Linked DNA regions of Homo sapiens: region 1 is reported to be linked to region 2. Evidence: microRNA targets listed by miRTarBase, many of them from high-throughput screens and not tested one by one. Region 2 holds a microRNA gene; the other region holds the end of a gene's coding sequence.

What was found. Region 2 holds the annotated microRNA hsa-miR-6840-3p (GCCCAGGACUUUGUGCGGGGUG, at 2,602-2,623, shown strand). A microRNA usually pairs through its seed, bases 2 to 8, with sites in the 3' UTR of a target mRNA and lowers its output. Matches are read on the target gene's strand: a 7mer-m8 pairs with bases 2 to 8, a 7mer-A1 pairs with bases 2 to 7 and ends in A, and an 8mer does both.
Region 1: the mRNA of APOL1 is a reported target of hsa-miR-6840-3p. Seed matches in the 3' UTR shown: 7mer-A1 at 2,698-2,704 and 7mer-m8 at 2,369-2,375.

What each region holds. Positions count from the first base shown.
Region 1 is chr22:36,265,531-36,269,530 of GRCh38, reverse strand. It overlaps APOL1 (apolipoprotein L1), which reads right to left. Exons shown (of 6, transcript NM_003661.4): 6 at 2,006-4,000. The coding sequence ends at 3,498. Among named protein-coding and RNA genes, the nearest start is that of APOL1, 14 kb to the right of the region's middle.
Region 2 is chr7:100,354,095-100,358,242 of GRCh38, forward strand. MIR6840 (microRNA 6840) reads left to right here and starts at 2,557; the gene lies at 2,557-2,627. PILRB (paired immunoglobin like type 2 receptor beta) reads left to right here and starts at 4,023. Exons shown (of 4, transcript NM_178238.4): 1 at 4,023-4,148. STAG3L5P-PVRIG2P-PILRB (STAG3L5P-PVRIG2P-PILRB readthrough) reads left to right here. Exons shown (of 17, transcript NR_036570.1): 12 at 1,049-1,146; 13 at 2,656-2,789; 14 at 4,126-4,148.

The sequences.
Region 1 (4,000 bases), not on the chromosome of region 2:
GTGGGAGACTTTAACACCCCACTGTCAATATTAGACAGGTCAACGAGACAGAAAATTAACAAGGATGTTCAGGACTTGAACTCAGCCCTGGACTGAGTGGACCTAACAGACATCTACAGAACTCTCCGTCCCAAATCAACAGAATATACTTTCTTCTCAGCACCGTATAACACTTATTCTAAAGTCGACCACATAATTGGAAGTAAAACATTCCTCAGCAAATGCAAAAGAATGGAAATCATAACAAACAGTGTCTCAGACCACAGTGCAATCAAATTAGAACTCAGGATTAAGAAACTCACTAAAAACCGCACAACTACATGGAAATTGAACAACGTGTTCCTGAATGATTACTGGGTAAATAACAAAATTAAGGCAGAAATCAAGAAGTTCTTTGAAACCAATGAGAACAAAGACACAATGTACCAGAACCCCTGGGACACAGCTAAAGCAGTGGATAAAGGCCTCCATGTCTCCTCCCTGGAAACAAAGATTCTGAGGACGCTCCTTGAAGGCACCTCAGAAGGTCTCATTGCCCATATGGATGGCCCATTCAAAAACTTCTTGTATCAACGTTTCCTCCTTCCCTCCTGGATCCTCAGTTCTGCTCCTAGAATCACTTCCTAGAAACCCTCTGCACCAGAACGTTGCCTCTGGCTCTTCCTTCACAGGACCCCAGGCCGCAACAGGCTACTTTAGGCAGCATCATGGCCTACATCTTTGTGCTAAGAGTAATGGGAAGCCATTGAATGGTCAGAAGTGGGTGCTCGATCAAATCTATGTTCTTAGGTGGGCACGGTGGCTCGTGTCTGTAATTGCAGCCCATTGGAATGCCAAGGCGAACAGATCACCTGAACTCAGGAGTTTGAGACCAGCCTGGGCAATGTGGCACACACGGATGGTCCCAGCTACTCAGGGGGTCAAGGTGGAAGGGTAGTTTGAGGCCGGGAGGTCCAAGATGCAGTGAGCCATGCTCATGCCACGGGACGCCAGCCTCACAACAGAGTGAGACCAAACAAACAAACAAAAAACCCCCAAAAACCCAAAACATGATCTTGTTAAAGCCCAACCTGGCGCAGTGTGGAGAATGATCCAGGACATGGGCAGGGACGGGCAGTTGCACATGGAAGACCATTCTGGAAGTTCTTGCAGGAGTCTGGGCAAAACGTGAGGACAGACTGGATGGGGGTGTTTGCTGTCTGGATGTCCCTCTTTGCCCCTCTATTACTCGATAATCTTCTCCCAATCTGCACACAGGCCCCTCTGACACTAGTCAGCCTCGAGCGTCCCATGTCAATCCCGGGCTCTGACTCGCAGATGGAAACCACACCTGTGCTCAGCCAGAGCCAGACATGTACAAGCTTTCTGTGGGTGCCCCAGTGGGGTTGGTGGGGTTTTGAGGTCTCAGGGAAATGACCAGCTGGGAAAGTGAGAGTCCAGTGAGCAAGCAGGAGGGGCCATGGAAGCCTCGTTTCCCGAGACCCTGGAAGAAGGATCATGAGGAAGGGAAGTCAGGCACCCAGAGCCCAGGGGAGCCTCCATCGGCACCACAAAGGCACAGCCATCAGTCAGTGCTGATTGGACCCAAGTCTCCAGGACACAAGATGGGGAGAGCTGGGTGGACCTGAGACATCACCTTGTCCAGGTACCCTTCTACAGCTGATGAGGAAACTGAGGCTCAGAGAGGCGAGGTCTCGTGACCACAAGCGGGGTTGAACTCCTGGACACACCTCAAGGTTCCTTGACCTGTTCCTGGCATCTCCTTTCATTTTTCCTTTCTTCCCAAATTAACCTCTTTCCAACACAGCACTTCAAGTTCCCCTGGAACTTCATCGGTCCATCGGTGTCCCCTGGTCTGGAAGAGCACCGACCACTTGCCAAGGCCCCCACCACTCTGCTGCCATCACAACCACCATCACCACCATTACGAGAAAAACTTGAGACTGATGGCCCCCAAAGCTTGGAAAGAGCTGAGAGACCAAAGAATGACTCGAACAAGTCCAGCTTGATGAGTAGGTGAGTTTATTGGGACTTACACACAGGTCAATCCTGGGCGGCGACAAGACAGCTCTAGAGATCTGAGCTTCCTCCCAATGCTAAACTGCTTTCATGCTAATTTTCTGACTGTTTACTTACCGGGTAAGAGCGATGGGACTGTTTTCATTGGTTGGTTCTCACATACTCTCTGGGAAGTTTGGGTTCTCAGGGACACCTGCTCCTCAGCTGGGGACCATGGCCATGGCCCACCACCTGCCCTTCAGTGTTCAAGCAGGGGACATGCACCCTTTAGTAACCTGGAGGGGACCCATCACATGACAACCACCCCAATGACCATCATCAGGAAGCCGCTGCCTGACTGAGATATGCCCCCAGGAGGACAAGGGAGAGTGGATGCTGGAAAGACAGGGCAGGGGACCATCACCAGGGAAAGACTTCATTCTTCGGAGGACATTGAACCTGGGGCTGGGTCTGTAGTGGAGCCGCTGTTTCTTCTCCTGTATCCAACTGTTCTAACTCTTGGGCTTTCTCCATTTTCAGCTCTTTCTTTTCCTGGCCTTCTCATTGCTGGTTCCTTCAAGCCTCCTCTCTATTCTTCCGTCAATATATTCTTTTTTTTTTTTTTTTTGAGATGGAGTCTCGCTCTGTCACCCAGGCTGGAGTGCAGTGGCGATATCTCGGCTCACTGCAAGCTCCACCTCCCAGGTTCACGCCATTCTCCTGCCTCAGCCGCCCAGTTAGCTGGAACTACAGGCGCCCGCCACCATGCCCGGCTAATTTTTTGTATTTTTAGTAGAGACGGGGTTTCACTGTGTTAGCCAGGATGGTCTCGATCTCCTGACCTCGTGATCCGCCCGCCTTGGCCTCCCAAAGTGCTCGGATTACAGGCATGAGCCACTACACCCGGCCCCCCAATATATTCTTTAGTCTAAAGTAAACTGCTTCTTCCCATTCCCCACACTCTCCAGTTCCCATTTTTCCCTTATTGCAGGCTCCAATGTTCCTGCCTTCTCCTTGCTGCACTGCCATCTGCATTAACCCCTCCCCTGCTGTGCTCAGCTATGGAAATGCCAAAGTCCCTAACACTCAGTTCCATAAACTTTACCTCACCCTCTTTATCCCCCTAATAAAATGTTTGCATTTGGGTCAAAAGCGATGGCTCACGCCTGTAATCCCAGCACTTTGGGAGGCCAAGGTGGGCAGATCAAGAGGTCAGGAGATCGAGACCATCCTGGCCAACATGGTGAAACCCCATCTCTATTAAAAATACAAAAATTAGCTGGGCATGGTGGTAGGCGCCTGTAGTCCCAGCTACTTGGGAGGCCAAGGCAGGAGAATCGCTTGAACACGGGAGGCAGAGCTTGCAGTGAGCTGAGATCGCACCATTGCACTCCAACTTGGCGACAGAGCAAGACTCTGTCTCAGAAAAAAAAAAAAGTTTGCATTTTGTCCTGGCCCCTGCCAGGCATATCTCTCCTGGTGGCTGCCCTGCCCTGTGGTCACAGTTCTTGGTCCGCCTGCAGAATCTTATAATTATTGTTGAGAATGTTTAGCTTCTCCTCCAGCTCCTGAGCCACCTTCTTCAGCTCCTCAGCTGTCTCTGACTTTGCCCCCTCATGTAAGTGCTTTGATTCGTACACGAGGTAGACTACATCCAGCACAAGAAAGAAGCTTACAGGGGCCACATCCGTGAGCTTGACTCCTCTGCTCATTTCCAGGATGCTGGGTTCATTAACCCTCTCCACCTGTTCACCGCTTTCAGCTGAGATTGGCTCAGTGACCCGGGGGCGTGAGGCTGAGGCATGCGGTACTGACTGAAGATTGGCTCTGGCTCGTCTGAGGGCACGGATGTCCTTCCCAATGCCTCGTGTGAGTTGGTAAGTATTGCCAGCTAAGGAAAGAAAGTTGGATATGTTCTCACCCAAAAACTCCCTCACCTCCTTCAATTTGTCAAGGCTTTTGATGACCAGGTCGTGGGCTTGGGCTTGTGTCCACCACTTCT
Region 2 (4,148 bases):
GTCCTGGCTTCTTGGGGTGGCGGGGGGTTGGGGGAGCTTCCTGAGGGACACCTGTGGCTTCCTAGACAGAATTGGGGGATCCCAGCGGGATGGTCCCTGCTGCAATCCCACCATGTCCTAGGACAGCAGCAAGGGTTCCTGGGGCTTCAGCCTGAGAAAAGTCCCTGTGATTTGACCTGGCGTCCCTCTGCCGGGCTCCCTGCTGTGGCCTGGGCTAGAGTCCTGATGCCCTCCTTCCACAGCTGGCATCAGGCAGGGCTGGAAAGTAGGAGGACTTGCCTGAAATCTGGCTGGATTTCAGAGCCTTGCTCTGTCACCCAGGCTGGAGTGCATTGGCACGATCTTGGCTTACTTCAACCTCCACCTCCCGGGTTCTAGTGATTCTCCTGCGTCAGCCTCCCGAGTAGCTGGGACTACGGATGTGCACCATCGTGTCCGCTAATTTTTGTATTTTTTTTTTTTTTTTCAGTAGAGACGGGTTTCACCATGTTTGGCTGGGCTGGTCTCGAACTCCTGACCTCAGGTGATCCACCCACCTTGGCCTCCCAAAGTGCTGAGATTACAGACTTGAGCCACGGTGCCCCGCCTGAATAGGAGCTTCTTAATCAAAATTTCAGCATGGCTCTGGGTCAAAATTGACCAGCTGATTTAATAAGTTGATGTAAAAATTTTACAGTCAGCTACCCCTGGGAGGGGGAGTCTCTCCCTAGTCAGTGAGGCACCAGATGCCAGAGCATTGGCAATGTACAAGGGGCTCAGCCCTGTGGCTCATATGTGTAATCCCAGCACACTGAGAGGATGCCTTGAGCCTGGGAGATTGAGGCCAGCCTGGGTAACAGTGACACCACGTCTCTGCAAAAAAGAAAATTAGGGGAGAACTGTGGTGCGTGCCTATAGTCCCACCTACAGGCAGAGCGAGACCATGTCCCCCACTAAAAAGAGGCCAAGAATGCAGGAAATATAGATAATATGGGCCCTGTGATGGGTGGAGGCCAAATAGATCAATACAGAATTGAAGAAGACACAGAGCACTTGTATTTCCCTTCAGGCATAGCGCGCTGGCTAGGACTCCAGTACCGTGAAGGGAGGCAGTGAGAGCAGACATCTGTGCCTCATTCCTGATCTCAAGGGGAAAGCAAGAACAAGGTGGGTGCCAAGGAGGGGCAAGGGGCTGGGGCAGGCATAGACGTGGCTGGTGAGGAAAGGAGGATAGTTGTTGGGGGAAGGTGGGGACATACAAGCAGCAGTTCTCAAAATGGGCAGGGTCCTGGCCCCCTCCCTGCCTCTGCTGAACACTGCATCCCATGCCTCTCCCATGGCCACCTGCTGGGCTAACGGGCTGGATTTAGACTCTGCCCATGTTGGAATCATGCCCTCCTCCAGGGCCGGTGCCTCCCAAAACCCCCCTCTGAGAGAGAGCCACAGCCCCAGGCTTAGCCCCAGGCCCTGTCACTGCTGTTGGGGGAGGGAGGATGAACCATCCGGGAGGCCTCACACCATTCCAGAGCAGAAATCCTGACACAAAAGGAATCTCCCATGGGGGTTCAGCTGGGTCCAGAGCCCGGAAAGTGACATAAACACGCACCTTGCATCTAAGGAGAATGCACGTGGCGGTACCGGGCCTGAGGCCCCTGGGGAGTATGTACCCTCCAGAGCTACCCAGAGGCTGTTGGCTAAAAGTTCTATGTGGCCCCCTCCTTGGGCAGCCTGGTAAGCAGGTGACCTTCTAGCTGGGTCCCATGGGCCACGGGCAAGGCAGGAATGGAACGAAGAGTCAGTCCTCAGTGGCTGGGTGTTGTATCCCATGCCTATAATCCCAGCACTTTGGGAGGCTGAGGTGGGCAGATCACTTGAGGCCAGGAGTTTGAGACCAGCCTGGCCAACATGGTGAAACCCTGTCTCTACTAAAAATATAAAAATTAGCTGGGTGTGGTGGCACACACCTGTAATTCCCAGCTACTTGGAAGGCTGAGGCAGGAGAATTACTTGAACCCAGGAAGCAGAGGTTACCGTGAGCCAAGATCACACCATTGCACTCCAGCCTGGGCAACACAGCGAGAATCCATCTCAAAAAAAAAAAACAAAAAGTCCTCAGGCAGGGTGGGCCACCCTCTTGAGGCCTTGCCCAAACAGCCAGGGGGTCCCTTGTCCTCTTTTCGGCCCACCTTTGCAGGTGGGACCAGTTCAGTCCAAAGCCCCGGTGCCTCAGTTTCCCTGTGGGTTGAACAAGGAGAATGAGGTGTATAGGGCCTGGCTCAGACGGAGGGGTTTCCTGAGCATGGGGAGCCTGTTTCCTCAGACCTGTGAAGGGAAGGAGGGTGGATCGGCCTGACTGGCCCTGGGAAGCACAGAGGAGCCTACTGGGACCAGGGAAGAGACTGACAAGAGAAGGGAGGCCTGTCCCTGCCTGCTTCTGTCTCAAGAAGATTGTTATCACTTCCTCTGGTGAAATCCTGCCTTCCTGTCCCCACGGCCCCTCAGCTGATGCCACCTTACTCTGGAGAGGATGGGCAGAGCCTCCTATGGAGGGAGCCCTGTGGGTCACCAAAGCTCCAGTGACCACCCCCGGGCAAAGACCTGCAGATCCCCTGTTAGAGACGGGCCCAGGACTTTGTGCGGGGTGCCCACTGTTGCTCTGAGCCTTCACTTCCTCAGGGAGGCTTCCTCAGGATCTCGAACCTGCGGAAGGAGGACCAGTCTGTGTACTTCTGCCAAGTCCAGCTGGACATACAGATCAGGGAGGCTGTCGTGGCAGTCCATCAAGGGGACCCACCTCACCATCACCCAGGGTGAGTCCAGCTGCCCTGGCACCAAGGAACCTTCCTGGTTCAGCCATAGGCTCAGGTGTGTGGAGGGAATGACCTGAGGGGCTGTATGAGGGAACAACCTCCTGGGGCTCCCCTATGCCTGAGTTCCTGCAACTCAGAAGTTGAGGCCCAGAGATCCAGGTAGAGGGGGCTCCAGTCCTGGGACTGCCCTGCAAGTCATGTGGCCTGGGACAGGGCTTCTCCAAGCTCTGTCCCCTCCTGTGTAGGGCAGGGAGGTCAGAGGGGACCCTGCAGATCCAGTCTCATGTCTGGGGGTCAAGGGGTGGCCTCGAGAGGGACCAGTCTCTGTGTAGGGGACCGTCAGCCCCCTCACCCCTTGAGCAAGACTGTGGTCCCTGCACCAAGGGAGCAGGCCTGGGGTGGGAAGAGGCCAGCTGGGCTGTGGTGGTGCCTGGGGACTGCATGGGAGCCCCTGCCAGGGAGGGAGAGGGACAGAGGACAAGCTGGGGGCTCTGGTGCTTGGGCTGGGGGCTGAGCGCCTGTGACCTCCACTGGCTTCCTCCTTCTCCTCTCTGAGGACTGAATCTGGGGTGCAGCAGAGCACAGACTCAGGCCCGCCTTTCCTCTCCCTGAAAGAGCCTGCGCTGGCCTTGGACAGAGAAAGGGATGAGAAGTGAGGCTGAGTGCGGTGGGGTCTGCAGGGATCCAGGTGGGAGGGGCCCAGCCAGCCAAGGTGAGGCCCAGCCCCTCAGCAGGAAGATGGGCACTGGGGCCCTTGGGCAGGGCTGACTTGACACTTTTGTGTGACTTGAGCCACTGTGCCCAGCCTGAACACCCTTTCCTGGTAAAACACTCCACAAACCAGGAAGAGAAGGAATGTACTGCAACAAAATAAAGGCCAGTCATGCAAGGCCCATGGCTGAAAGTCTTTCAGTCATTTTAGATGAAAGACTGAAATCTTTGCCTCCAAGATCAGGAACAAGAGAAGGATGCCCGCTCTCACTACTTCTATTCAACACAGGATTTGAAGTCAGGCCGGGCACAGTGGCTCACGCCTGTAATCCCAGCACTTTTGGAGGCTGAGGCGGGCAGATTACTTGAGCCTATGAGTGTGAGACCACCCTGGCCAACATGGCAAAACCCCATCTCTACTAAAAAAAAAAAAAAAAAAAGGATTTGAAGTCCTGGCCGGAGCAATTAGGCAAGGGATAAAAAGGCACCTAAGGCCCTTTTGCAATAAGAAGCCAGATGGATAAAGGAAGTGCTGGTCACCCTGGAGGTGTACTGGTTTGGGGAAGGTCCCCGGCCCCCACAGCCCTCTGGGGAGCCTCACCCTGGCTCTCCCCACTCACCTCAGCCCTCAGGCAGCCCCTCCACAGG